Linked DNA regions of Homo sapiens: all the other regions are linked to region 1. Evidence: fine-mapped expression QTL. A gene starts in region 1. Each other region holds a variant in brackets. All regions are shown on one strand. Distances are between the middles of the regions.

Evidence for each region. PIP is the estimated chance that this variant, and not a neighbour inherited with it, causes the effect. A credible set is the group of variants that fine-mapping cannot tell apart.
Region 2: its variant is the best candidate, but not a certain one, in a credible set for the expression of ZFYVE28 in cerebellar hemisphere (GTEx, PIP 0.64).
Region 3: its variant is the best candidate, but not a certain one, in a credible set for the expression of ZFYVE28 in whole blood (TOPMed, PIP 0.87).
Region 4: its variant is the best candidate, but not a certain one, in a credible set for the expression of ZFYVE28 in skeletal muscle (GTEx, PIP 0.85).
Region 5: its variant is the best candidate, but not a certain one, in a credible set for the expression of ZFYVE28 in pituitary (GTEx, PIP 0.54).
Region 6: its variant is the best candidate, but not a certain one, in a credible set for the expression of ZFYVE28 in whole blood (INTERVAL, PIP 0.75).
Region 7: its variant is the best candidate, but not a certain one, in a credible set for the expression of ZFYVE28 in pancreas (GTEx, PIP 0.52).

Annotation. Positions count from the first base shown.
Region 1 is chr4:2,417,027-2,421,090 of GRCh38, reverse strand. ZFYVE28 (zinc finger FYVE-type containing 28) reads left to right here and starts at 2,446. Exons shown (of 13, transcript NM_020972.3): 1 at 2,446-2,806. The coding sequence starts at 2,768. It overlaps CFAP99 (cilia and flagella associated protein 99), which reads right to left and starts at 2,136. Exons shown (of 16, transcript NM_001193282.4): 1 at 1,998-2,136. RefSeq lists silencers at 1,922-1,971, 2,212-2,441, 2,562-2,721 and an enhancer at 3,727-4,064.
Region 2 is chr4:2,383,471-2,387,534 of GRCh38, reverse strand. The region is part of intron 1 of ZFYVE28 (zinc finger FYVE-type containing 28); the gene reads left to right. Among named protein-coding and RNA genes, the nearest start is that of ZFYVE28, 33 kb to the left of the region's middle. RefSeq lists an enhancer at 38-552. The variant A/G (reference allele first, on the strand shown) is at 1,839.
Region 3 is chr4:2,359,728-2,363,791 of GRCh38, reverse strand. All of the region lies in intron 1 of ZFYVE28 (zinc finger FYVE-type containing 28), which reads left to right. Among named protein-coding and RNA genes, the nearest start is that of ZFYVE28, 57 kb to the left of the region's middle. The variant C/T (reference allele first, on the strand shown) is at 1,576.
Region 4 is chr4:2,375,245-2,379,308 of GRCh38, reverse strand. All of the region lies in intron 1 of ZFYVE28 (zinc finger FYVE-type containing 28), which reads left to right. Among named protein-coding and RNA genes, the nearest start is that of ZFYVE28, 41 kb to the left of the region's middle. The variant CT/T (reference allele first, on the strand shown) is at 2,096.
Region 5 is chr4:2,337,023-2,341,086 of GRCh38, reverse strand. It overlaps ZFYVE28 (zinc finger FYVE-type containing 28), which reads left to right. Exons shown (of 13, transcript NM_020972.3): 4 at 1,432-1,634; 5 at 3,591-3,680. LOC124900649 (a long non-coding RNA gene) reads right to left here and starts at 1,319. Exons shown (of 2, transcript XR_007057991.1): 1 at 1,173-1,319; 2 at 1-1,047. RefSeq lists an enhancer at 985-1,674. The variant A/G (reference allele first, on the strand shown) is at 1,620.
Region 6 is chr4:2,329,472-2,333,535 of GRCh38, reverse strand. The region is part of intron 6 of ZFYVE28 (zinc finger FYVE-type containing 28); the gene reads left to right. Among named protein-coding and RNA genes, the nearest start is that of MXD4, 69 kb to the right of the region's middle. RefSeq lists enhancers at 1-212, 143-222, 213-1,010, 1,011-1,808, 2,123-2,622. The variant A/G (reference allele first, on the strand shown) is at 2,348.
Region 7 is chr4:2,295,786-2,299,849 of GRCh38, reverse strand. All of the region lies in intron 8 of ZFYVE28 (zinc finger FYVE-type containing 28), which reads left to right. Among named protein-coding and RNA genes, the nearest start is that of MXD4, 36 kb to the right of the region's middle. RefSeq lists a silencer at 1,536-1,635. The variant G/A (reference allele first, on the strand shown) is at 2,073.

The DNA.
Region 1 (4,064 bases):
TTTGCTAGTTGCTTTTCAATCTCCACTACCCCTTTCCTCCCAAATAAGAAAACTCTGATTTTTAGCTGGGTCTACTGCTGCCCAATTGAAAGATGGCATTTCCCAGCCTCCCTGGCAGCTGGGGCATGGTTGTGTGGCTAAGTTCTCCCACCACCTTCAAGAAGTGGAAAGGTGTGAGACTTCTGGAAAGTCTCCCTGAACGAGAGAGGCATATCCATCTTCTCTTTTGCAGCTGGTTCCTGGGCCGAGGAGGTGATGGCAGGAATGTGGGCAGCCATCCTGGATCATGAAGAAACGTGAATGGCAGATAGAAAAGCTGATCCTTGAGGACTTTAGGGCTGCCATACCAACCACGATTGCCTCTCCATGGACCTCTTTTATAAAAATATGAGTAATATTCTTGTTTAGGCCACTGTGATGTTGGGATTTTTCAATACATGCAGCTAAACCTAACTGATACCCCACTTCCCCAAGTTCAGCCTTCATCCCATGCACAATTTCAAACTATAAAACACAGGAAGGGAGCCTCTGAGCAGATACAACTGCTCCAGGCCTTGGAGTTGGCCAAGGATAGACCCACAGAGAACAGCCATTCACTCAGTGGACAAGCCCATCAAGTGTCTACCCCAAGATCCTGTGCTGAAGAAATGATGGCTTTGGGAGCAGCAGGTTTTATGGGGGAAGACTGAGAGTGTGGTTTGGGACACGTTAAATTTGAGAGGATCTGTTAGGCGTCCAAATGGTGAAGAACAGGTAAACAGGTCTGGAGTTTCAGGGTTGAGGCTAGAGATATAGGTTTTGAGAAGTTTGGGAGAAAATGGTTGTTTATAAAACCATGTAACTGTAGGAAATCCCCCAGGGAGGGAGTGGATAGAGTAGGTTCCAAGGACTGAGTCCAGGGTCTCCAGTGTTGAGAGGTCGGTGAGCAGGGGAGGCATCCAGCCAAGGAGATCAAGCAGGAGTGGCCAGGAGCGAGGAGGAGAAGTGGACAGTGGGATCTGTTTCAGCCAAGTGAGGATGCTGTGTCACGGAGAGGGCACAGTCGGCTGGGTCACGTGGTAGTGACAGTTCAAGGAAGAGATGAGCGCTGACCCCGATCATCGGATTTTGCAACATCAAGGTCAAGGATGACTTTGATAAAGAGCTTCAGAGGAGTGGTTGGGTGAAAATCTGATGGGAGTAGTTTCCAGAAAGAACAAGTGGGAAGGAATTGGAGATAAGGGGAAACTCCAGAGGGGTTTTGCCCTTCAGAGGGTCGACTGGGTGGTAGGAAGAGGAGAGTAGGGAAAATCAATCAGTTACTCAAAAATAAACATGGACCCTACCCCCAACTAAGAGAAATCTTAGATGCCAGCGCGCCTAGGCTCACATCGCGTCTGTTGGAATAAAGTGGTCATGGAGCCCACGGACCTTTCTGAGCACCTGGCACTGGCCAGTGAGGACAAGCAGGAACAGGTCAGACTTCTCAATTCTGAACCGAGGGGGGCATGACTTCCATCTCCTGTGTCTTACATCTGCACGTTTCACAACAAGCCAGAGACGTGGTGGTGGTGCGGCAGGGAAAAGTGCAGCGCTGTGGGGTCAGGCCGACCCAGATCCGCCGTGATCTGGATGCAACCCCCACAGCCAGGGCACGCCGGCCTCGTTGTGCCTGCTTCTCTGGCTGTCAATGGGAAGTTTAAGTGAGGCCACGTGTGGGTTTTTAGCTCTCTGCTTGACACATAGCAGGTACTCAGATTGAGGTGAGCGTTTTAAGGTACAAATTAGGGCACCACTGGGGGGAGTAGCGAGGGCGGAAGAGTATCTTTTTAGAACGCACCGCTGATAGTGGTGATTTAAAAAAAAAAAAAGAGGCACCGTTCACTTTCATCGGGGAGCTGGGAAGAAGACAGAAGAGGTGTTTGGGAGAAGCAAGATGAGCAGCGAGCGAGAGGGAACCGGCCGGCAGGTCATGAAAATCGGCGGCGCGTCGCCCCGCACCTGTCCCGCCCCCGTACCTGGCGGGCGCTCGGGGCAGCCGAGCCCTCCTGCCGCCGCCACCTGCCACCGCAGCAGTTTCCTGGGCCAGCTGGGGCTAAGGTGTTGGCAGTCGTCGTCCGTCAGCTCCCGGTAGGCAGGACGCCGCGGCTGTTTGGCGTCGTCACCTAGCAACCGGCGGCACGCTCCGCCGCCATCGGGTGGACTACAACTCCCACAATACACAGCGCCGCGGCGCGGCCCGGGACGCCAAGCCCTGGGCGCCACCTCCCCGCCATGCCTTTCGGGACTTGTAGTTTCTTGGATACCCGGGCGCGGCGGGTCGCCCCGCCGGCAGGGAGCGCGCCTCGGGCGGGGTGCGGCGCCCGCGCAGGGATTGGGCCGCCTCCGCCCCGCCCGCCCCGCCCGCAGCGCGCGGTGGGCCCGGGGCTCGCGGCGCCCTAGGCGCATGTGCGGCGCGGGGCGGCCGTGACCAGCGGAGCGCTGGGTGTCAGTGAGCAGCGAGGAGCCGCGCGCCCCCGTGCCCGCGTCTGTCCGTGCGCCCGAGCGCCCACTCCCGGGTCTGAGGTCTGCCCGGCGCGCCGCTTGCAGAGCATACTCAGGGCCGCGCACCTGCCCCGCGCACCTGCCCGCCGCCCGCTCGGCGCTCCGGGCTTCGCTAGCCAGCCTCCCTGCGACAGCGCGGGGGCTCCGGCCGTGCCTCCGCGTCCGCCCCGCGCCTCAGCCGGGCCCGGGCGCAGCGCTGCGGAGGGCGAGGGCCGCCCGGAGTCCGGCCAGGGCCGGCGCGGCGATGATGAACAGGTTCCGAAAGTGGCTCTACAAACCCAAGGTGAGCGGCCCCGCTCGGGCCGGACGCCCCCCGCGTCGCGGCCTCTCCCTTCCCCAGGACCGCCCGTCCGCCCTACAAGACGGACTCCCTTTCCCTGTCCGTGGCCGGCCTCTTCCCCCACCGCCGACATCCTTCCCTCCACTCCAAGACTTGGACAGATCTTCATCGCCCTGTCTCTGAGGCGGATCCGAACCTCCCTCCCGGCTTCCTAAGCCCGGGTCCAGGACTGACCCTCCTGCTCCTCCTCTCGGGCCGGGGCGCACTTTCCCTCCCCCTCTATCCAGGGCCACAACGGGCCCCTCTCCCTCCTCATCCCGGTCCTGGACGGTGCCCTCCTACACTTCGTGGTCCCCAGCCCGCGGGCCCGGAGCAGACCCCCTACTACTTCTCCGTCTCCCCTCCCTGCACCAGGAATGCCCCCTCATTCCCGTCCTGCCCCCACCCCCATTGTCCTGGGCCCGGAATAGATCTCCCTCCGCACTCCAGAACAGACCCTCTCCCCACTTCCCCAGGTTCTGAGAGAACCCACATTTCCCAATCCCTGGGTCCAGGGCAGACCCGTCCTTCCATGTCCAGAGAGGATCCTGATGGCCCTGCCAACGGCCTCCCTTCCCGAACCAGGACTGACCCACACCTCGGCCCAGTTCGCGTCCCCTCCCTTGTCCCTATCCTTGTCCCTTCCCCACCCACGTCCTCTGGAATCCGGGACAGGTCCTCCGCCCGGCCCTTGGGGCGAGCGCGCCCGTGGCCAGCAGCCTCGGCGGGGCGGGAGGTGCGGCTCTCCAGCCGGCGCCCGCGCCTCTCCTAGCGCCGCGGGGTCGGGGTCCGGGCGGCGCGCCCCGTGCCTCAGCGGCTGCGCCAGTCGCACTGCGGGCGCTGCGTCCCCGCCGCCCGCCTGGGGCTCGTGCCCGCTGCAGCCGGAGCAGGGCCGGGCGCGCTCGGCGCGGGATGAAGGCGCGGCGGTGTTCAGGATCCCGGCGCAGGGTCCAGGGCGCATCTGGGCGTCCGAGGGTGGCACCCTGGGGCCGGCGCAGCGGGGAGGCCCGGGCCCTGAGATCTTGGGGGAGGTCACGGCTCGGGTGGGGTCACCGCGGCGACCAAGGGCGGGAGTGGGGCCAGCGCTTCGTCCGGGCAGCTCGGACGTCCGAGGCCACCGCGTTGCCGACCTACCCCTCCTCCCTCCACTGGCCGCCTTTCTCCGTCCAGCGTCCCAGGCCTCCGCCTCCACCGTGGGTGAGCTGTCACGGCAGAGGTTTCC
Region 2 (4,064 bases), 34 kb after region 1:
CCTGGCCCCATATCCCGTGTCCGCAGCTGCTCGCCAAGTGGGGCGGCACATCCCTGACAGGCAGATTACCCCCAGGCACAGCACGAGGACAAGGACGTCACGTTCGCCTGGACTTGGGTCTCCTGCTTCCGGCCGGCAGGAGGGCAAGCAGGCCAAGTGATGGGTTCTGGCCAATGACGGGCAAGCAGAGTTGCGTCACTTCCGGCCGTGAAGCTCAGTTTCCCTTCCCAATGAGACTGAGGTGCAGAGGTGGCCCTGGCTGAGGGGATGGGTAGGGGAGAGCCACGCAGCCCTAGGCTGGACTGTGCTTCCGGGTTCCCAGTGGACTGCCAGGAGCCTTGGGGGACCCTAGGCCGCTGGTGGCGAGCTCCGGGGTGGGCCAGCCTCCTCCTGCAGGCAAACGGACTGTGGCACCGCTCTCCATCCTGGCTCAGCCCCCTCCTCCAGGGAGTGGCCCCGGCCCCGGCCCCGGCCCCGGAGTCTCCTGCAGTCTGCGGAGCCGTCCAACCCCCTGGCTGTGTCCGGAGATCTCCATTCTGGGGCCTCAGCCCTACTGCCCGTGCTACCTGACTGCCGGGGGCCAGCGGGGTTTCTTTCCAGACAAGACTGGACTAGGAGGCTGCTCCGGGAGGCGAGCTGAGGGCAGCGAGCTTGGCTGGCACCTCAGGCGGGCGGGCATGGCCTCAGCAGGCGCGCAGCGGGGTTTTACTGCTGAAAGCGCCTGTCTTAGTCTGTTTTCTGTTGCTTTAATGAAATACCTGAGACTGGGTCATTTATAAAGAAAAGGCATTTGGGTTTCTTACAGTCCTGGAGGCTGAGATGTCCCAGGTCACAGGGATGGTCTGGTGAGGGCCTCCTTGTCTGGAGGGACTCTGGAGACCCCAGGCGTCCCAGGGCATCACGTGGCTAGGGGGCTTAGGAGAGAGAGCCAAGGTAGCTTTTATGACAGCCCCGTTCTGTGATGGCTCATTGACCCTCAGTCCACAAACGGCTGGATTCATTTATGAGGACAGTCAGTCACCTCTTAAAGGCCCCACCTCTTTTTGTTTTGAGATGGAGTCTCCCTGTGTTGCCCAGGCTGGATTGCAGTGGTGAGATCTCAGCTCACCGCAACCTCCGCCTCCTTTGTTGACGCCATTCTCCTGCCTCAGCCTCCCGAGTAGCTGGGAATACAGGTGCCCGCCACCACACCCAGCTAAATTTTGTATTTTTGGTAGAGAGGAGGTTTCACCATGTTGGCCAGGCTGGTGTTGAACTCCTGACCTCAGGTGATCCACCCGCCTTGGCCTCCCAGAGTGCTGGGATTACAGACATGAGCCACTGCGTGCAGCCAGCCCCACCTCTTAATACTGTTCTTTTGGGGATTTACTTCCATGTGCATTTGGGAGGGGACATTCAAACCATAGCCCTGTCTGAGTGGAAAGCCAGCTGCTGCAGCCGTGGGAGTGAACACCAGCAGGGAAGGGAAGGGAAGAAATTGTGGGGTTTTTGGTGGGAACAGAAAAGAGACATTTGGGATTAGTCTGCAAATGGAAAATTAAATTCTGTGCTGGCTCTGCCCTGGGATGAGAGCGAGCCCGGTGCAGTGCTTGTAGGGGACCCTCAAAGACTCCGCTTTGTGAACTCAGGACCCACTGACAAAGTCAAATTGTGATTTTAACTTCCCGGAGAACCAGATGGGTCCCCTGTGAGGGCGCCTGTCTGCGGCTCTTAAGCAAGGAGCTGGGAGCACTGGAGTGGGGGTGTGAGAGGGTGTCAAGTCCCGCCTTGTGAAAGCCTGGTGTGTTTTTTGTTTTTTTTGTTTTGTGAGAAGGGAAATCTGCCCCGTGCTGTCCTGA[A/G]GAAGGCAAGCCAATGGGGCTGGAGGGAATCCATGTAGGAGGTCAGAGGTCAGCCCTGAGGGCAAAGGCTCAGATGCAGGCAGTGGGTGCCCTCTCTGCTGTCCGAAGCCTGTGGGAGGCCATGTAGGCAACCATGTAGGTCTGACCCGCTGCAGAAACAAAGGGGCGCTTTGCTGCTTGGCGTTGCTCAGGGTCCCAGCTGACAGTCCAGAGACCTAGTCTCAAATCCCAACTTTGGCAGGCCGGGGTCAGGAGACAGCAGCTCTGTAAGGGCAGCAGGTGCTCTCTCAGCGCTGGGGCTGTAAGGGCAGCAGGTGCTCTCTCAGCGCTGGGGCTGTAAGGGCAGCAGGTGCTCTCTCAGCGCTGGGGCCTGCTTCAGGTGGGTCTCACCTTTTTCTGCTGCTGTTCTTGGCCCACTCCCTTACCGTAAGTAGCCACCATACAGGCCAGGGTCATCACTGTGCTCCTCCATGGCCCAGGTCTGTCTGTCCTGAAGCCACTGACGGGAAGGGGTGGCAGCAGTGCGGGTGTATTCCCAGAGAGCCTCTGCAGTTGTGATGAGGTGGGTCCCTGAGTGACTTGGCCTTCCAGTCTGGTCCCCCTTCTCGCCAGTCCTGGGCAGGTCAGGCCAGCTAGGTTTGCTTATGCATGGCTTCAAAGGTGAGGCCTTTTACAAACTCTGTTTATCACTTTGCTGCACTCCTTGAGGGTGTACAGGATTGGTGTGTTTATGATAATCCTTAAAATCAGGACAGATGATTGCCCTACACTCCCCTCCCCCCAAGTCTAGGACCTGAGCCTGTCTCCGTCACATCTTGAAAAGGCAAGAGTTCTGTGTGACTCCTTGTGCAGAGTGGGCTGAAGCTTGGGCAGGTGTCTCACACTCCAGGTGAGTGAGGTGGCTCCTGGCCTTTGTCTTCTTTTCCTATGCTGAATTAAATAAAGATTTTTCTGAAGTAATTCAGTCATTCATTTGTTCACAAGTCTTGGCTGTGTGTTTCCATGCTCCCCCTATGATCCTGGCAGGTAAGGCTGTTTCCCTCCCCACCTACCTTCCCACCGGGCCCTGAGGGGTCGGCCCTCTGTGCTTCTGCTCCCCCACCCCATCCAGCACTCCCTCAGGAGGAGATTCCTGCTTGGGTGCTGCCTGGTCCCTTCCCCTCCTCTCGTTCTTGCTTAAACTCACTCCTGCTCCCAAACTGCATTTGTCACGGTCCTGGTGGCCTGCCTGTGCCCCCTCCAGTGGTCAGTCACAGCCCTGTCCTGGGAAACCAGGCAGCTGGAGTGACCCTGGGCAGCCCTGAGCACTTGTTCACTCCCTTGGCGGGTGGTCACTTCCCTCTGACCCTTCTTGAATAACTTAATCTGTAGGGTACAGAAGCTTTCACACTTTCCTACAAAACCAGTTTCCTCTTCGCAGATAAAGGGAATTCCTTCCAGAAAGTTTCTTCTGTCAGCAGTGCAGTCTCGGTTCCTCAGCGTTTGTCGAAGTACCCGGGGAGGAGAGGGCTCTGTGGCATTGACTTTGGCTGACAGTCCCGGGGGCCTCTTCCCTGTGGGTAGAATGTGGGAACCCAACACTGCATCTACTCTGTGTACCCCAGTCCAAAAATCACTCTGCCTGTGTGGGACATGTGCCCTACCCTCTTGCCTGTCTTCCTCAAGGCCCTTCTTTGCAGAACAGCCCCAGTGGAGACACTTCAGGGTGATGGGGACATCTTAGGTCATCAGGGCATCATTGAGAGAGACTGTGAGTGATGACCCTGTGTGACGACCTCATTTTCTCCAGTCTTGTGAAAGAATGGCTCCTGGAGATGGCTCCTGGAGAGCGAGTGTCTGTAACACACGCCAGCGACACCACACACAGAGAAAGGCCCTTAGCCTTGTCTGTCAGGGTCTCTTAGGAATAGAATATTCTAGATCTGTGGAAGGCCTGCTGGAAAATCCCAACCAATGTGAAGCGTACCTCCTCCTTCCAGTGTGTGGCCTGCCATTCACTCCAGTCTGCACTGATGGTGCCAAGGCTTTGACACTTGAAGCGTGATATGAAAAGATAAAGGCATTTTAACAGAAGATACCGGGTCAGTGGAGGTGACCGAAAGCAGCATTTGATTCCCCAGGTCATCCTGGGCATTGGGATAAGTGCGCTGCCACTAAGGGAAAGGAGTATTAGTCTGTTTTCACGCTGCTGATAAAGACATACCTGAGACTAGGAAGAAAAAGAGG
Region 3 (4,064 bases), 57 kb after region 1:
CCAGTCCCAAGAGAAGACTCCTACTTCGTGGAGAACAGCAAAGATCGTCATAGCCAAATACCAGGAACTTCTGCCTGTGGGCACTGCATCCTGGGCTACTGTTTAGTCCTCCATGCGCTGGTGACCTACATGCTCACATACAAGTTACGCAACACAGGTTGATTACTTACAGATAGGAAGCAAGGGACAGAGCCAGTCCCCAGTGTCGGGAAGGCTGCCCAGGGCAGATGGATTGCTGACTGCACATGCTTCTCTTTGCACCAGGGCTAAAGGGCCCTGCAAGCAGCCGCAGGTTAGAGCCCTCAGGGACCACGTGACCCCCAGGGCAAAGCTTTGAAGGACACCCTGCTTCCAGGGAGAAAGAAGCAAAGCCCAGGCGGTTCCTCCCTAACTCAAGCTGTTACAGTCCCTGGGAGGGTCAAGGACAAGTTCCAGGCTGTTCTGGGCAGTCCCTCCCTATCTCTGGATGCCGCGTCCTCAGCACGTTCTACCAGCAAGCAAGAAAGCTGGGAGTGCTGGGTTGATCCCAGGCCCCCTGGAGAACATTCCTGCAGGGATTATCTGAGCTATGCCACTCCCACAGGTGACCTGAGCTGGGTGACATATATGCCACTCTCACAGGTGACCGGTCAACGGTCATATGAGGGATTAAACTGTGTCCAGCCCCCACCCACCAAGCCCTAGAACTGCCAGGGTCTTCTGAGTCTCGGAGGAAGTAGCCAGCAGTCTCAGCAGTTCCCTGGTCAGGCTGTGCTGGGGACACTCACCATGTAATGGGGTTGAGGGGACCACGGGGATGGTGATGAGCCCAGGGCTTGGTGCCACGTGTGGGCCCGAAGGCCACAGGGAGGGCCAGTACCGAGTCCTGAGAGAGAGCAGGGGTGGGTGGGGTCCGCAGGAGGCCAAGGCAGGAAGTGAGCAGGACCGTCCCATCCTCACTCCCTGCCAGGCCTCCTGCTGACCCAGCGTGCCCACTGCAGCTCCCTGACCCCAGAGGAGGGCAGAGAAAGGGGACAGATGGATGGGGAGGGAGACAGTAGCAACAATAGTAACATTGGGGTGGGTGTGGCAGCACGGCTGTGCCTGGGACCACAGGAGTGTGTGCCTGTCTGGGGCCCCAGATCTGCTGCCGGTGGCTGGTGGTGCTGCCAGGTCAGTGGGCCCCCAGCCTGGCAGCCCCTGGGGTGTCTGCTGTGGATGAGGCCTGCCTTGGGGACATGGGTCATGGCTGCCCATGGACGTCTGGCCTCAGTGCGGACAGGAGGGGTTGGGCATGTGCAGGAGGGGCTGGGCCTGTGATTGGCAGCAGTGAACAATTCTAGCCCCAGTGGTGGAGGGGTGGAGGGGCTTGCTCGGCCATTAGTTGGTCATGGTGAGGGCTGAGGAACAGCTGCTGTGGGGGTCACAGCTGTGGGGCCGCATTTGTGTGTCCCAGGCAGAGGCTCTTCCCTGGCTTCTTTGCGATGCTCTTGGATTCCTGGTGCTGGAGCGAGAAGTCCCAGGCTTTAATGGAAAGCTGGCCCTGGAGAGGCCCAGGCGGTGCCTCAGACACCTGGTCCTCACCCCTGCATGCTC[C/T]AGCCTCTGTCCAGCTGAAGTCTGCATGTGACCACTGTCTCCTGGAGATCTGCTGATATCTAGGAGGCAAACACACCTGGGTCTCCACGGCTGAGTGTGGGGGCTGTAGGGGTAGGGAGCTGGCTGCCTGGGGTGGTCTGTCTTGGGAACTGGAGCTTAGAGCCCAGCTTATGTCCTGGGTTCAGCTGTGTGGGGAGGGAGGCAGTAGGAGCTGGACTGGGCTTCCGTCCCTTGTTGGGGCCCATGGGGCGGGGCTGGTCCTCTCTGGCCTGGCTGTGCTGCCTGTCCTCCCATCTGTCCCGCCACCTGCCTGCTCCCATCCTCCCTGCCGCAGCTCGGCCAAGACTGTGATGCTGCTGCCCTGGAGTGACAAGGTGTCTCTTTAAGGTCCCCACCTGCAGGATTTATGTCATATTTGGCAAACAAGAGTGTGAAAGGGATCCAGTCCTGGGCCCTTACCCCCTTACCGCACATAGATGCCAGAGAGTCCTAGTGACACCTGGGCTGAGATCTGGCGCCTTGGCATCCAGCGATGTGGTCTTGGCCATGAGTTACCTTCAGGAGTGTCAGTCTCCTTGTCTGGGTGGAAGGCGTGGTGTGATGGGCTGTGCTTCCGTGCCCTGTGCAGGGCTTGGAGCCCCAGCCCTCCTGGGCCTCAAGGTGGCTGGGGCCTGCCCCAGTGGGTGGGGTAGTGCGTGTAAACTCTGAGCCCGGTGGCCAGCCCTCGTAACTGCTGGGAAACACTGCAGGGTCATCACACGTGGGTCAGACGGGCTGAGCTCACACGTGCGCACCGCGTCTCTCTCCCTGCACGTGCCTCCAACCCGCACCTCCCACCTGCAGCCACAGCTCACATTAGGGACCAGGGGCTCGAATGAATTAACAGTTTAATCAGCTTTACAAAATTAGCCCAGAGTCAGTCCATCCTTGTATTTTTTGAACCGAGAGCTGCTTTGTTCGTGCATATTTTCTCCTGCTTTTTTTGAGGATGTCCGTTCAGTAGTCATCTGACCCCGTGAACGAAATGCCTTCTTTACGGGTTTGACTCCTTTTAACAGTGAACACTTTCACTGTTTATCTTTGAGAAAATTTATCTTTGAGAAAATATTGATGTAGTGTGATTTTAAAAGAGCTTCCTACTAGGTTCTAATTTATTCTTTTACAATTTTTATTTCAAAAATTTTAACAAGTGAGTACTTCCTATTTATATCAATTGATTCCCTTTATTGTGGACATTGTATTTAAGGACATTTAAAAACTGAATTTAAAATGAAATTGTAAAATGTCATTGAATAAAGCTGGTGGATTCAAATCAAAGGGAGATGCTTTGTCAGTGATGGAACATTAACCGCCCCTCCCCATTTATCTGTCGGGCCCGCAGGCTCACTTGAGGGTGAGCCCCGTCGTGCTGGACAGATTTAACACTAAGTGATGAGTAGGTTGAGATTATAATTGTTTGCTTTATACTCTGCATACTTAGAAATGGAAATTTAGTACCCCAAATTTTCTTCTGGATTCTGTTAATCAGGATAGACTGAATTTTGTAAGCTGTGTTCATTCATTTCCTGGGACCCCTGCCTGAAGGTGTCTGCTCACAGTGAGGGGTCTGGGTGGGATGACTGACACAATGAATAAAGACCCCTCCTGCTCCCGCCCCAGGCACTGCTGGGACCATGTGGGAAACTTGGCCTCTTCCTCTGAAATACTGGTCCTGAATGGCCGGGACGCTAGCTCAGGGGCTAACTCAGCTTTTCAAATAGCACGGGGTTTCTGTGTGTGCGTGCGTGCCTGTGTGTGTGTGTGTGTGTGTGTGTGTGTGTGTGTGTGATTACAGCTCTCTTTTTGCAGATGGTCAACACCTTTGTAGGTCTGGTTTTAAGGTCTTTAATTTACTGAAATCAAGGTACAGCGGCAGGGTATTTGCTTGTGGGCACTGATGCCAAGTCAGCAGTGTGACTGTGGTGCCCGTCATGGCATGGTGTGGGGCGGGGTGTGGTGAGTGTTGTTCCTCGTGGTCGTGAAGACACTCGGAGCTTCCCTGTTCTCGGGGGCAATGGCTTTGGACACGCTGTTCAGGATGCCCCTTTCCCACGCGCAGGCAATTATACCGTCAGAGCCCATGGCCCCTAGACATCATGGAGGCCTCCTCAAATCACAGAGAACCACAAATGGCCTCGCAGGTTGTTGTAGACGCCGTGCGCTTGTCCGGGGTGGGTAAAGGCTCCGAGGCTCAGGTCCAGGGCCCGAGGGGGCTGTCCTTCCAGGTGGATGGGGGTCCCCAGGGTCTTTCAGGGAAGCTTGAGCCCACCCCAAGAGCAGCTTCCTCAGAGTTGTACAGGCCCACAGATTTGAGGTTTTACCTTGGAGGAGGGTTACCTGGCAGGGTTTGCTAAGTGGATGTCAGGGCTCCCAGGCCCTCCTGCATGGCACTGCAGCATGGAGGGGTCTGGCCAAGGGTTGGCTCCCCAGCCTGCTTCTGGGCCTTCCAC
Region 4 (4,064 bases), 42 kb after region 1:
GACAGAAGATGGGATTCTGAGATTTCCTTTTCTTGGTAGATGAGGAAACTGTAAGTCCCTCCCATTGCTTTCTTTGATTGTTGAGGGCTCTGTCTCTCCCTGGAGCGGTCCCCCCAATGCCCACACCTCCTTGCTCTCTGGCACGGGTTCTGCTGCCAGCATGGTGCAGACTGGGGGGCTTGGCCACTCTCAGATGCTGTCTGTCCATGTGACCAGCCCCCGTCTACCCCCTGCTGTCATGAGACAGCCAGGCCCCTGGAGTTCTGGACACCTTCCCAGTGGCTCACCAGGATGCCTGGAGCCCAGAAACATCCAGGTGCAGATGTACCCCATAGAGGAAGAGCCCTCTGCTCAGAGCCTCTGGCACCAGCTTCCACCCTTGTGGGAGTCTAAGGTGGTTTGGGAAGGGGCAGGTGGACCTTGATTCTGATTTGGCTTCAGTTTGCCTCTTCTTTCTTTGGGAATAATCAAGATCTGTGGCAGGCCCTGGGAGAATGAAAGGCTGGGTATCGGGTCTGAAACAAAAACAAGTAGTCGTTTTGGCTGGCTCCAAAATTCGTGGTTGGGTGGGTGGATGGAGCAGGGGTGGATCAATACCTAGTCTCAATCCAGGAAAGCAGTACAGAGGAAATGACAGGGTGCTGCCTCACAGTCCACAGGAGGACCAGCCCCAGCCGGGAGTCGGGCAGCTTCCCTAAGAAAGAAGGAAAAAGCATCAAAGTTCAGTGGAGAAGTTCCAAAAAGTGTCTCATAGGAGTCCCAGGGAGAGAGTGGAGAGGAAAGAATGATGGAAAAGCTGTATTTGAAGAAATGGTAGCTGAATTTCCCAGTATTGAAGAAAGACATGAGTTCTGAGATAAAAGGAGTTCCAAGTAGGATAAAGAAATGTGCAGTCATGGGCCATGTGACAGGCCACATATACAATGGTGGTCCCATAAGTTATGATAACGATATTTTTTTATTTTTTTGAGACAGGGTCTTGCTCCGTCACCCAGGTTGGAGTGTGGTAGTGTGATCTCAGTTCCCTGCAACTTCCGCCTCCCGGGTTCAAGCAATTCTTACGCCTCAGCCTCCCCGGCAGCTGGGACTGCAGGCGTGCACTACCGTGCCTGGTTAATTTTTGCATTTTTAGTAGAGATGGGGTTTTCACCATGTTGGCCAGGCTGGTCTCGAACTCCTGACCTCAAATGATCCGCCCGCTTCAGCCTCCCAAAGTGCTGGGATTACAGGCGTGAGCCACCGCGCCCAGCCTGTTAGGATAACCGTATTTGACTGTACCTATTCTGTTTAGGTACACGAATACTTCCCATTGTGTTACAGTTGTCTACAGTATACTGTTCAGCACAGTAACGTGCTGTGCAGGTTTGTGGCCCAGGAGCAACAGGCTCTACCATGTAGCCTAGGTCTGTCGGAGGCGGGGTCATCTAGGCTTGTGGAAGTCCATTCTCTGATGTTTGCACAATAATGAAGTCAATTGACAACACCGTTCTGAGAACATATTCACATCGTTCAGAAATACCTGGGAGTAAATCCACACTGAGATGTATTGTGGTAAAGCTGCAGAATGTCAAAGATGAAGAGAATCTTTAGAATTAACAGAAAAGACAGAGTAACTACGAGAAATGGAAAAAGCCCCGCAGGTTTCTTCTCAGCAACCCCAAGTGCCGCAAGATAGAGAATGAGCCCACAGTGCGGCGGGAAGGCGACTGGCAGCCCCGAATTTTAGACCCAAATGAACTGCTAGTGAAGGGGCAGAAGGCAAGATGAAGACATTTTTCAGGCAAACATTTTTAACCATTTACAGATGCTCGTTGTAACATTTCCTATTATAAGATGTACATCAGCAAGAAAAGGGAACTCGGAGGAAAGATGATGGGATAAAAGAAACAGCTGCAAGGGTGGAAACTGATAAAATGTCAGCGAGTTTAGCTCATAATTGTTTAAGAAATTATGTGTGTCCTAAAATAGAGATAAAAGTAAAGCCCTAGGCCGGGCGCAGTGGCTCAACGCCTGTAATTCCAGCACTTTGGGAGGCCGAGGCGGGCGGATCACAAGGTCAGGAGATCGAGACCATCCTGGCTAACACGGCAAAACC[CT/T]GTCTGTACTAAAAATACAAAAAATTAGCTGGGCGTGGTAGCGGGCGCCTGTAATCCCAGCTACTCGGGAGGCTGAGGCAGGAGAATGGCGTGAACCCGGGAGGTGGAGCTTGCAGTGAGCCAAGATCGCGCCACTGCACTCCAGCCTGGGTGACAGAGCGAGACTCCGTCTCAGAAAAAAAAAAAAAGTAAAGTCTTAGACCAGTGCTGTCCAATAGAAATAGGATGTGAGAGCTTTGGGTGCAAGCAACACGTATACACTTTTATTTTATTTATTTATTTTTTTTGAGACAGGGTCTCGCTCTGTTGCCTGGGCTGGTGTACAGTGGTGCAATCTTGGCTCACTGCAGCCTAAACCTCCTGGGCTCAAGGAATTCTTCCATCTTAGCCTCCCAAGTAGCTGGGACCATAGGGTCATGTCACCATACCCAGTGATATGGTTTGGCTTTGTGTCCCCACCCAAATCTCATCTTGAATTGTAATCCCATAATCCCCACATGTCGTGGGAGGGACTTGATGGGACGTAATTGAATCAAGGGGGCAGTTCCCCCCATGCTCGTCTCATGACAGTGAGTGAATTCTCAGGAGATCTGATGGTTTTATAAGCGTCTGGCATTTCCCCTGCTGGCACTCACTCTCTCTCCTGCTGCCCTGTGAAGAGGTACCTTCTGCATGGTTGTAAGTTCCCTGAGGCCTCCCCAGCCATGCAGAACTGTGAGTCAGTTAAACCCCCTTCCTTTGCAAATTACCCAGTCTCAGGTATTTCTTCATAACAGTGTGAGAATGGACTAATACATCTGGCGAATTTAAAAACTTTTTTTTTTTTTTTTTTTTTTTTTTTAGAGATAGGGTCTCACTATGTTGCCCAGGCTGGTCTCAAACTCCTGGGCTCAAATGATCCTCCCACCTCAGCCACCCAAAGTGCTGGGATTATAAGTCTGAGCCACTGTGCCTGGCCAATTTGAAATTTTCTAGTAGCCACATTAAAAAAAAAAAGTAAAAGAAACAGGTGAAATTAATTTTAATAATATTTTATTTGGGGCCAGGCACGGTGGCTCATGCCTGTAATCCCAGCACTTTGGGAGGCCGAGGCGGGCGGATCACGAAGTCAAGAGATTGAGACCATCCTGGCCAACATGGTGAAACCTCGTCTCTACTAAAAATACAAAAAATTAGCCAGGCGTGGTGGCAGGCGCCTGTAATCACAGCTACTTGGGAGGCTGAGGCAGGAGAATCACTTGAACCCAGGAGGCAGAGGTTGCAGTGAGCCAAGATTGTGCCATTGCACTCCAGCCTGGGCAAAAAGAGCGAAACTCCATCTCAAAAAAAAAAAAATTATTTGACCAGAATATTGTTTTAACATATAATCAATATGAAAACTATGAGATCTTGCACATTCATGGTGAACTCTGAAATCTGGGGCTCCAATCGCCCCACATGGTAGGGTTAGAAGGGAGGGGTGGAGGCTGTCAGTGGGATGCCCCTTGTGTGTGGGGCGGTGCTTTCTCAGCCTGTGATAAGAGGTGGGGGCGGCACAGTCCTGTGTCCCGCCCCCAGGGCAGGCGCCACGTCGTTTCCTCTCCTCCTGGTCCATGGAGGAGTTGAGGGGTTAGTGTGTGGGGCAAGCTACCTCCTCACACCGTCCTTTAGCACAAGCAAATGCAGTGAGCTCAGCCGCTGCTCATTCTTGTCAGTGGGCATGAGCCAGCACCTGGCTGGGTGTGGATTCATTCAGTTTGGTCACCAAGTCGTGACTTTATCTGGGGGTCACAGTGTGAGCCACTGCTGTCCAGCAGGGGGAAGAGCCCGGCAGAACCCTTGGGGAGGTACCGGGGCCTCCTTCGATGCTGGCCCGGCTGATTGACCCTGGGTGATTTGGGCCTTGTTAGAACTTAACCCCCTACTGATGCAAAGTTGCTTAAAATCAGTTGGAATGACTTAATTATAACATTTTCCTGTAAAAAGAGG
Region 5 (4,064 bases), 80 kb after region 1:
GCCACATGTGGCAATAGCCTGTCATCTTCATCTTCATCTCCCAATCAGGAAACTGAGGCACCGAGAGGAAGGTGCCCTTCAAGGTGGCGGGAACAGTCTCCCCCAGGCCCCCACCATGCGGACTCCCCAGCCTCCTCCCCTTGCCGTGCTCCCGAGCCTGACCTCAGCCCCGACACCGCCACCCTCTCTATTGTGCCGTCCCCATCCTGCCCGCCTCCCCTTTCTAGGAATCCCTGGGGTGCGGAGTCTTCATCCCACGCTGCCCCGTCCCTGTGTCCACCCTGCCCACCCCACCTTCTGAGCCACCTGGTTGGGGTGTCCTCTGCCGAGGCTTGGGTTAGTTACAGGGGCCCGCGGGCAGGTTCTCCCTCCTCCCCAGCCTCAGTTTCCACCTCCGTGGAGTGGGTCCTGGGGCAGTCATGAGATGGAGCGTGTTCTGTGCCCGGCTGGCCTGGCAGGGGCATGCATGCACAGGGGTGGGCACAGCTCCTTGTGTGGTCCTGGTGCCCCAAGCTCTGTGCCCACCTGCAGCTTGGGCCTGGGCGATCAGCGCCGTCTCATTCTGTCACCTGGGAAATGGCTTCTTGTCCTGCATCACTTGATCATCCCTGAGGGGACAGCAGGTGGATTGGTTCTATCCTAAACCTGGCGAGGCCCCGGCCTCTAGACAAGCCTCCCTGTGACAACAGGTCTACCAGGGCCTGGACTCAGCCCCTGTGCCAGAGGGCAGCTTGGTGAAATTCCCAGTTGCTGAGCGCACGCTGGGGAGCTGCCTCGCAGCACCCAGGGCAGACATGGGTGGATTTGTGGGTGCGGAGGAGCCCTCCTTACCTGCCCAGGAGCCCAGGGACTCTCACACTGATGAGTCTGCGTTCCGGGGAAGGTTGCGTTTCTCTGGCAGTGAGCAACTTGACAGGTGGTGTCTGTGGCTCCCTAGATAGGCTGGGGACCTCGGGCCCGGATCAGCCCGGCTGCTTCATCCCTGGGAGCACAGACCTGATTGTGGAGCCTGGAAGCTCCAAGCTCCTTGAACTTCATCCCTGTGGCCTGGACGGGGAGCGGAAAAGAGTCACATGACCAGGGTTCCTCCTGCAGGGAGCCCCCAGACCCAAGGGCCTCAGTCCACCTTCCCCTCCCCTCCCCTCCCCTGCCCTCCCCTCCCCTGCCCTTACCTGCCCTGCCATGCCCTGCCCTCCCTGCTCCTGGGGCCCTGTGAGGACCCCGTGGGTCACATTGGGGGACATCGGTTATCGCCCTCACGATTGCTCTGAATGTAAGAAAAACCTCCTGCGGGGACCGGGAACACGAGCTGGCCTGTGCTGTGGGGTGAGAAGAGGGGCCCCGAGGTGCGCAGTCAGGTTCCCCGGGTCGGCGACCCCTGAGAGCCTGGCCCTCACCCGGGCCCCTCCCTGAGTGTGTCCCCTCCCGCAGTGCCTGGCCGCCGGCTCCATCATCATGAACCGGGAGCTGGAGAGCATGGCCATGCGCCCGCTGGCCAAGGAGCTGACGCGCAGCCTGGAGGACGTGCGGGGCGCCCTCCGTGACCAGGCGCTGCGGGACCTGAACACCTACACAGAGAAGATGAGGGAAGCGCTGAGGCACTTCGACGTCCTGTTCGC[A/G]GAGTTTGAGCTCAGGTACTGCAGCTGTGGGTCCACAGCCCTGGCTGTATGAGCTGGGGGACGGTTGTGCCAGCTTCCGGGGCTCACCCTGATACTTCAAGCTGGAAAATTCCACAGAGGGAGGAGCCAGGCAGGTTCAGGGCCGCCTGTGGGTGGGGTTAAGCCCTGGAGAGCATAGCGTGGAGGTGAGGTGGGGCATCTTTCCAGGGAGTGGGGTGAGCACAGAGGACACAGGTGTGGATCTGGCCGCCGTGGGCCTCCAGGGGAAGGGCTTTGGAGAGGCCCGAGGGGCCAGACATGCATGATGCCTCGGAAGATGAAGAGACGTCACAGGTGAGAAGAAAACAGAGGCAGCCAGGCGGGTGCGGTGGCTCACGCCTGTAATCCCAGCACGTTGAGAGGCCGAGGCAGGCGGATCATGAGGTCAGAAGATCGAGACCATCCTGGCTAACACGGTGACACCCCATCTCTACTAAAAAAAATACAAAAAATTAGCCGGGCCTGGTGGCGCGCCACTCAGGAAGCTGAGGCAAGAGAACCGCTTGAACCCGGGAGGCAGAGGCTACAGTGAGCTGCGATCCAGCCACTGCATTCCAGCCTGGGCGAGAGAGCGAGACTGCATCTCAAAACAACAACAACCACAACAAACAAAACACGGAGGCAGATGGTGTCCGCAGAGGTTCAGTTAATAAGTTTTTCATCTTGTAATCTACTGGCCCCTAGGAGATCAACCAATGCATTAAGGGCAGTCCTCTGCAGGAAGCAAGAGCACGGACAGTCGAGTTTTATTTTCTTGTCTTCCCCAAATTTTCTAAATCAGCTTCCATAAGAAAAAATTAGAGTTAGTGATTTATTTATTTATTTATTTATTTTCTGAGACGGAGTCTCACTCTGTTGCCCAGGCTGGAGTGCAGTGGCACGATCTCAGCTCACCGCGACCTCCACCTCCTGAGTTCAAGCCATTCTCCTGCCTCGGCCTCCCAAGTAGCTGGGATTACAGGTGACCACCACCACGCCTGGCTCATTTTTTTGTGTTTTCAGTAGATACAGGGTTTTACCATGTTGGCCAGCCTGGTCTCAAATGCCTGACCTCAAGTGATCTGCTGCTGGCCTTGGCCTCCCAAAGTGCTGGGATTACAGGCGTGAGCTACTGCACCTGGCCTAGAGTTGGTGGTTTAGAAGGAAAGAAAGTGCTCTCATCTGGGGAAGGGTTGGACAAGCCTTCACGTCTCAGAGCCACTGGCAGGCCTCCTGCAAGCCGCTGTGCCCAGCCTGGGCTGGCTTCCGTGGCTGTGGAGGTCCACGTGCGGAGGTTCATGTGGGGCTGCGGGTTGTTCACCCACCCGTGCACGTGTTCATTCGTTTCTCTCTCGCCCCTTAAGGCTGGTGCCAAGGTGGGGGATGGTCCCGCACATGGGCAGCACTGGGTCCAGGGTGGTCAGGCTCCAGGGTGAGCCCTGGGAGCTGGCACAACTGTCCCGCATGGGCAGGGCTGGGGTTTCAAGGGAAGGCCTGGGGTAGGCCTGGCTGGCAGGAGCTGTGTACTATGAAACTGCCGAAATGGGATGGTGGTGTAGGGTGTGTGTGTGTATTTTAAGAGAAAAGGTCTTGCTTTGTCACCCAGCCTGGAATGCAGTGGCACCATCACCATTCACTGCAGCCTCCAACTCCTGGGCACAAGTGATCCTCCCACCTCAGCCTCCCAAGTAGCAGAGACTGTAGGTGCCTGCCACCACCACACCCGACTTTTTTATTTTTTGTAGAGATGAGGTCTTGCTGTGGTGCCTCGAACTCCTGGGCTCAAGCCATCCTCCCACCTCAGACTCCCAACGTGCTGGGATTACAGGCGTGAGGCCCCCCGCCCCCACCTTGCCCAGCATTGCAGCTTTAATTGAAGATGCCCCCCACTCTGTTTTGGAGGGGCCCCGCCACAGCCCAGGTGCGGCCTCACAGGTCTCCATGTGTTTGCAGCTACGTCTCGGCCATGGTGCCTGTGAAGTCCCCCAGGGAGTACTACGTGCAGCAGGAGGTCATCGTGCTCTTCTGCGAGACGGTGGAGAGGTGAGCACAGGGATGCTTAGGGGCTGGGGGCAGCATCTGGGGAGTCCCTGCCTCACTCCAGGCCCGGGGCAGAGGGCAGCTCTGGGGGAACCTGCTGTGTCTCGGGAGTGCCCCAGATGGAAGGCACCAGACGTGTCTTCCCACACTACATCCGGCTTCTCCTCACAGGTGGGCAGAGGGTAGAGGCCACCCCTGCCTTTACCTCTGCCCGGCCCCCTTCCACCGCCCCACGGTCGCTTTTCTGTCTGCCAGAAGGTCAGATCCTGCAGGTGAAGTCACTGTCAGAGGACAAAAGCTGGAAGGCTCTGGCATGATGGATTGGACGTCCAAACCTTGTCACCTTCCTCACCCCCTCACTCCTCACCTACTCACTCCTCATGTCCT
Region 6 (4,064 bases), 88 kb after region 1:
GCCGCACCCCAGGCATACTGTGTTTCGGGACTTTCACACTGAGTCTGCTGCCCGTGTTTGCCCGAGTACAGGCGACCGCAGAACAGCAGCCACTTCCCCCAACCAGTATCATCTGTGTCCTGCTTGCCGACCTCAGTCCACCTGCTGGTGGCCAAACCTCTGCTCCTCCTTCTGTCCTAGGCTTTCATCCTGGGAGGCAAGGGGAGGCGGGGGCTGGGGGATCAGGGTAGGGGAGGCCAGAGGAGGGAGGTGGGGGGGCAGCTTGGGGAGGGAGGTGGGGGAGTGTGGGGGGTCAGGGAAGGGCAGCAGGGGGGGTCAGGGAAGGGCAGCAGGGGAGGCCAGTGCTGCGGGGGAGGCCAAGGGAGGGAGGTTGGGGAGGGAGGCTGGAGCTTCTGTTGGCAGAGGCTTTGTCCCGCGGGTCCCCTCCTGGAGGCACTGGCGTGGGGTCCCCTCGGGCTCAGGACAGTGGGAGAGCCTGGAAAGGGAGTGAGGGACCCCCAGGAGGTGAAGGGGGCTTGGATTGAAGGAGGGAGGAAGGGCGAGAGGGCATAAGAGCCCAAAGCCAGAGTCCAGGGAGCAGGCCTGTCCAGGGGGGTGGCCAGCTGTGAGCCCCCACAGAGGCAGGCATCTAGCCACAGAGCCAGGCTGTGGATACGAGGAACCGTGGGGTGCACCAGGCTGCCACTGCAACCCTCTGTGCAGCGAGCCTCGAGCAGGGCGGGTGAGTGCTGAGCGGGTGAGTGCTGAGTGGGCAGCTGTTCCTAAGGCCGCCCCTCTGGGATGCTCACTGGGGCCCTGCAGCCCTGCACCACCAGCGGATCCCGTCTTGTTCCTCGTCATCCACAGCGACCGCTTTGAGCCGGACAGGCAGAGGCCACAGCTGCCCGTGGTGGGGCCCAGAACCTGCTCCTTCCTGTGTTCATTCAGTGAGCAAGTATTGAGTGCCTACTGCATACCTCGCCCTGTGCTTGTACCAGGGAGATGGACAGATGGGCTGACCCACAGTGCTGTGGAATGTTCTGGATGCTGGAAGGGGGACTCAGTGCAGGGACCCCATGGGGTGGACAGGAGCTGAAGGCGTGAGGGAGAGGCTCCCCAGGGCAGCCGGCCCAGAGGTGGGAGCTGTGCAGGTGGCAGGCAGGGGCACGTTGGTGCAGGTGGTGTATGCTCAGGGGCAAGTCCAGGGCTCGAGCAAGGACCAGGGGGCCGCAGGAACTTCTGCAGAAATGAAGACCCCTCTAGCCTGCATTCCTGGGCCCACACCCTCGCAGGATCCTGCCTCTGTGAAGTGGGCATCCTGGGACCCCCCAGGTGACCCCCAGGGAACACTGAGAGCAGAGGGGAGGCAGGGGTGCTGAGCGGGGCAGGAGCTGAGGGTGGAGCTCCTCTGTGGCTCCTGCCCGTGACTGTGCTGCTGCCCGAGAGCCCCAGTCCCTTCTCCAGCACACAGTGTCAGAACAGTGATGCCACATTTACCAAGCATGAGCTGCGGGCCAGGCTCCCGTCCCCTTCTGAGGGGCTCCCAGTGGCGAAGGCACCGCTGGGGGTCAACAGCTGGAGGCGGCAGAACCAAGCCCACCCGAGGGTCAGAGCCTGCTATTCACCTGTGACACAAGAAAGCAGAAAACTCTAGTTCTGTGGCTGGCAGAGGAGGCCTGCCTGGGGCAGAGGCAGTGGTAAACTGAGGCCTTCAGATTGGCAGGGGGAGGTGGAAGGGAGTGCTGGGTGGCACCCTTCCCCCTGTTTAGGGTGTCCCCAGCCTGGTGGGGTCTGGCCTTACCAGGCAGTGAGGACAAAAACTGGGGGTCACCCCTGTGGGGACTTGCTCTGAGCCGTAGGGGAGGGGCCCCACTTGCCCTGCACCCCTCAGCCTGTCCCCTCCCTAAGACCTGCATCCAGTCAGTCCCTCCTGCTGATTGAGACACGCGTCCTGGGGAGAGTGTCTCCACGAGGCTCAGACTCTTTGACAAACTGGTTTTACTTTTGGGGATTTATCTTAAAACAGTTTCTTTTTTTTGTTTTTAACTTTTTATTTTTATTTTTTAATTAAAAAAAAAATAGAGACAGGGTCTTGCTGTGTTGTCCAGGCTGGTCTCGAGTTCCCGGGCTCTAGCAATCTGCCTGCCTTGGTCTCCTAAAGTGCTAGGATTACAGGCATGAGGTACCGTGCCCAGCCCCGGCCTTAAAACAGTTCCTTTAAAGGAAGAAATGAAATAAAACCTCTAGACCCAGTGGTCACTTCCCAGTCCCCATCAGCACAGACCTGCCTGCCCGCCTCGCTGCGGCTTCGCCCGTCTGCACTCACAGCTGTGTGTGTGCGACGCTTCCCAGACCGGACCTGTGCAGA[A/G]CCCAGGCCCCTCTCCTCTACCCCTCCCTCCCTTCCTCCCCAGCCCCTCCTTCCAGCCCATCCCAGAATCTACCCCTCCCTCCCTCCCCAGCCCCCTCCTTCCAGCCCATCCCAGCGTCTACCCCTGCCTTCCTCCCCAGCCCCCTCCTTCCAGCCCATCCCAGAACACGTGCAGGAGCCACCGCCCACGTGGCCTGCAGGATGGTTGCCGGATCCTCTTCAGGGGCCCTCACCCATCCACCTGTGTCAAAACAAGGTGTCATCTCTGCCCTGCTCAGACCCTTGCCGGAGCTCCCACCGTGATCTGCCTGCACCGTGCCCACACCAGTCCTCTCTCCCCAGTCCCCACGCACCCGCTGCCCTGGGTCTCCACCATGCTGTCCCCTTCGCTCAGGGTCCCCTTGACTGTCCTATCCCTACTGCCACACTGTCCCCTCCCCCGCACTGTCCCCTTTTCCATGATGTTTCCTCCTCCACGCTGTCCCCTCTGCTCCAGTGTCCTCTTGGCCATGCTGTCCTCTCCATGGTGCTGGCCCCTCCACTACACTGTCCCCTCCTCTATGCTGTCCCCTTGTCTATGCTGTTCCCTCCTCTATGCTATCCCATTCTCCATGCTATCCCATTCTCCATGCTGTCCCCTCCTCCATGCTGTCCCTTCCTCTGCAATGTCCTCTCCCCTGTGCTCCTCTGCACTGTCCCCTCCTCCATGCTGTCCCCTCCTTTATGATGTTCCCTCCTCCGTGCTGTCCCCTCCATGATGTCCCCTCTTCCGTGCTGTCCTCTCCTCTGCACTGTCCCCTACTCCCTGCTGTACCTCCCTCTGCGATGTCCCCACCACTGCACCGCTCACCCAAGCCCTCTCCCACCAGCAGGTTGCGTGACTTACTCTGTTATTTATTTTTCCATGTTACTGAGATAAAATTCATTACCCTATGACTCACCCATCTACAGTGCACAGTCGTTTTTGGTACATTCAGAATTGTGCAGCCATCACCACAAATTTCATAACATTTTCATTACTCACAAAGATGTCTCTTACTCCTGAGCGGTCACCTCCACCCCCTATTATCCTTCATCCTGCCCCTTAACCCTAGGGAACCACAAATCTATTTTCTGTTTCTATAGATTTGGCTATTGGGTTATTCATATAAATGGGATTTCTGTTATTTTTGTGTCTCCCCCACTAGACTATAACTCTTATTCACGGATGCATCCTGAGTGCCTGTCATGTCATAGTGTGGTGGACTTTTGCAGAATTTTGTTGCATTGATCTGAGGGGGCACAAATATATATCCACAAAGATTATCCCCGAAGTATTACTTGTAATCATAAAAATTTGAGAAGGGATGGATATCCAGAATTAAGGGATTGGTTAAAAACAATACTGTAGCCATTTAAATAATGATGGAGAAAAATCTCCTAATGCTATGCAAAAACATCCCCAGTGTATTAAGCACAAAAACTGTTATCAAATAGTATGTCTCTATTTTACAGAGTTTCTTAACATTGATAGGTAAAACTTTTGTAAACAGAAATTAAAGCAATAAACATTCTTCTTTATTGTGGTAAAATATACATAACAAAATTGGCCATTTTGACCCTTTCTTAGGGTTTTAATGGCAAAAATTGCAATTACTTTTGCACCAACCTAATATATAGGATTTACCCTTTTGTGACTGTCTTATTTCACTTCACATAATGTTTTCAAGTTTCCCCC
Region 7 (4,064 bases), 120 kb after region 1:
ACTGCAGCCTGGGTGACAGAGTAAGACCCTATCTTTTTAAAAAACAAAACAAATAAGGAAATAAATATCACCCCAAATCTTATGAACAGTTTTATTTTTTTTTCCACTGAACATGGTTTTATAGTTTCCTCTATGGTTTTTTGTCTGCCTCTTGGATTCTCTTTTCTTTTTCTTTCTTCCTTTTCTTTCCTTCCTCCCTCCCTCCCCTCCCTTCCCTTCCCTTCCTTCTCTTTTCTCTTTTTAACCACAGGGTCTCCCTTGGTTGCCCAGGCTGGAGTGCAGTGGCACAAACACAGCTCCCTGTCTGGGCTCAAGCTGTCCTCCTGTGTTAGCCTCCCAAGGTGCTGAGATTACAGGTGTGGGCCGCTGTGCCCAGCCTTGGATTATTTCTTTAGAATTGGTCCTTAGAAGTAGAATCACCACAGCAAAGGTATGAAGCCTTTTAAAGCTCTGCCACTCACTGTCAAACTGCTTTCCAGAAAGAGCTGATTACCCCCAGCAGTGCCATCCCTCGCCAACACTTCCAACTCCAACTTGAGGGGGAAAAACGGAGTACCCTTCGCTGTTCCTGAGGTTTGCCCCCTCTGATCACTGCCAACCTGGGCAGTTGTTCTGTTAGCGCCTGCGTTTTTCGTTCTGGGAAGTGACTGTGTTTTCTGCTGTTTTTCAGCTGGGATGTCACGCTTTTTGGACTTGAAAATGTTCCGTCTGGTCTGTTGGTGGCTTTCTCCAAGTTGTTCTTGCCCTTTGACTTTGTTTTTGAATGTCTTTTGATTTGCAGATGTCCTCAATTTTATCTTGTGTAATTAAGTTTATAGAAATTCTAGAAACAAGTCTGTTCCTCTGCCTTTCTGGTTGATCGCGTGTGGTGCGAGGCGCGCTGCTCCTCTGTGGTGGGGCCGGGGAATGTTCTTCTCATCTCTGGTGGCCTGGGTTTTGTTTTTTGCCATCAATCCTGCAGCCCCGATGACTAGTCGGGAGGAGGCTGGAACCAGCGCAAGGGCCTCTGTGCATCAGAGTGGGACTGACGGAGGCTGTGGCCGTCCTGACACACGGTCAAGGCTGCCCGGGCGCTGGCTTAGGGAGGTCTCAGAGCCTGTCACTGTCCGTCCCACGGGGGCAAGGCCAGGCCTGCTCCGTCGTGCAGTCGGGCGCCTCTGTGACTGTACTTGAGTCCTCCCTTCCCTGCCACTTGTCCACCGTGCTCAGCATCCTCTCTGGCCGTTGCTCTAGGTAGAATGGTAGGAGTCTCACAGGCTTCTCAGGACAGACAGTGGCCAAGCCTCTGCCCCAACCCTGTGGCACATGCCCCGCCTGTGTGCGCCTTCCTTCCGGAACTTGGCAGTGGCAGACAGATGACAGACACTGAGGGATATCCCTTTTAGAGGAATCGCTGGAGTCATGGTGGGGAGTGCCCTGCTCCATACGCAGATGTGAGGGGAAAGGCAGTGCCTGGTGAACCGACTGCTCAGCCTGAGCCTCAGTTTTGTCATATGCAAAACGGACCAACAGCAGGCCCCAGCTACATGGCAGGATGCACTCCTCACGCATCACCACTCATCCTCTGCCGTTCCTCCCAGCACAGCCCGCTGTGTCACTGTGTCACCGTGTCACCCCACTGTCACCGCTCATCCTCTGCTGTTCCTCCCAGCACAGCCTGCCGTGTCACTGTGTCACCCCACTGTCACCGCTCGTCCTCTGCCATTCCTCCCAGCACAGCCCGCCGTGTCACTGTGTCACCGTGTCACCCCACTGTCACCACTCGTCCTCTGCCGTTCCTCACAGCACAGCCTGCCGTGTCACTGTGTCACCATGTCACCCCACTGTCACTGCTCGTCCTCTGCTGTTCGTCCCAGCACAGCCTGCCGTGTCACTGTGTCACCGTGTCACCCCACTGTCACTGCTCGTCCTCTGCTGTTCCTCCCAGCACAGCCTGCTGTGTCACTGTGTCACCCCACTGTCACCGCTCGTCCTCTGCCGTTCCTCCCAGCACAGCCCGCCGTGTCACTGTGTCACCGTGTCACCCCACTGTCACCACTCGTCTTCTGCCGTTCCTCCCAGCACAGCCCGCC[G/A]TGTCACTGTGTCACTGTGTCATCCCACTGTCACTGCTCGTCCTCTGCCGTTCCTCCCAGCACAGCCAACCATGTCGCTATATCACCGTGTCACCCCACTGTCACTGCTCACCTTGCTCCCAGATTGCGCTTGCAGCTGTTCCTGGCCATCTTTGCCATGATCAGTCTTGGCTTTGCCTCTGGATTTCATTGTTTCCTGGATTCACATCTCTGTCCCCCGCTCTTCTGGCGGTGACAGCTATCCCGGGTGGCATCAGGCATTGCAGTGGCGCTTCATGACCTCGCTCCCGGACAGTGGGTCCTGGCCTCCAGCTTGAACATCCACCCACCGCGCCCCACCTGGCGACTCCTCCGTGTGGCCTGGGGTCATTCCACCAAGCTCCTCTGCCCTCTGCCAGTGTGAGGACAGGGCTCAGAGGTGTCACGGAGGAGAGCCTGCAGCCGGTCTATCCCGAGGTGGCTGCAGCTCTCCCGGGCCTGCTGACCCTCTGCCCCATGGTGAGGTCGCTGCTGCAAATCCTCCTGGGCCCCTCCAGGCCATGACACAGAGGGTCCTGTGGCCCCCAGCCTGGCTCCCGGTGCGCAGCCCAGAGGAGGGCAGGTTGTAGCTGGCACATCAGTGAAGGCGCCGCTGCGTGGGGAGTCACCTGCTGCTGGGCTGGCACTTCTGATGTGCTTCGTTCCCACATCCACCATTCGGCTTTCCCACCAGCAGACAGGTGTTCAGCCCCTTCCCTGGGTGGGGCCTCAACCAAGGGCCATGCGGTGCTGTGGCCTCGGTGGCCCGGAAGCCCACGCTTCCCTCCCTGCAGCGCAGTCAGGGCTGACAGAGCCTTCAGTGGCCCGGCCCTAGTGTGGAGCTCTTCTGGGGGCTCAGAGGACACAGGCAGCCTCCAGGTAGAAGGCTGAGCTGCTGGGCTGTGGGGGCTCTCCGGATCCGGGGGCTCCCCAGTGGACCCACTGCAGGACAAGGGGACGGAGTGACAGGTCTGGGACTGAGGCAGCCCGGCCTTGCTCCAGTGCCTGTGACCTTGAGCAGCAGGTGCCGCCCCGCGGGCCTCCCCTCCCCCTCACTGGGAGGCTCACACGGCTGCCATTTCCCCCAGACTGTCTGGGGCCCGGTGGCAGGTGCTTGCTAGGCTGCTGCAGCCATTGGTCCCTAAAGCAGGTGTCCCGAGGTCCTGCAGGGAACACCGAGACCTTCCACCCACTTCATGCCCCTGGCAGGAAAAACAAGAATGATTGAGGGGTTTAAAAATAGAGGAGGACTTGGAATTAATTAGACTCTTGAAAAACAGATTAGGTGTAATGACTGTCATTAAGCCAATCGTTTATAAGTGACGGGGCCTCCTGGGCTGACACGGTGAGTCGGGGATAAGACCAGGGCTGGTCCGCCGTGCACAGGCCCAGGTGAGAGGGCAGGGCTGGGTTCTTGCTCTCGCTGGCCCCAGGCATGAAACCTTAGCAAGCTCGGTGATGCCTGTGTCACCAGAACCCCACAAGGGACAGTGATCGCCCTGCAAGGCCCTGAGTGGTGGCCTGGATGCAGTAGGCACGCAGGCCAGCAAAGTCCTGGGAGGAGGTGCCACCCTTCTTGCAGATGGGCCTCCTCCCAATTCACAGCTGGCCTAGAGCTGGAGAGAAGGCCCCAGCCTGGCTGTGCTCTCGGGGAGGCCTGGCTGAGGGGATGGTCATTACCGCAGGTCCCCCACATGTCCTCATGACCCCACCCAGGGCCCATCCTTACAGGCCCTCTGTTCCCTGGTGACCACAGCTTCTCCCCTAGCCTCTGGACCGCACCCCGCACCTCTTGCGACATCTGCCACCCTGATCCTTCCCCACCATCACCATCCACTCAAGGGCACCACCTGCAAGCAGCTGCGGCTACATGGAAGGAGCCCCTCACCATCCTCTCTCCCTCACGCCCCCTACCTGGTCCTCTGGCCAGTGCTGGAAAGAAATTAGAATTGTTTCATGAGGTGAAGGGTGCCA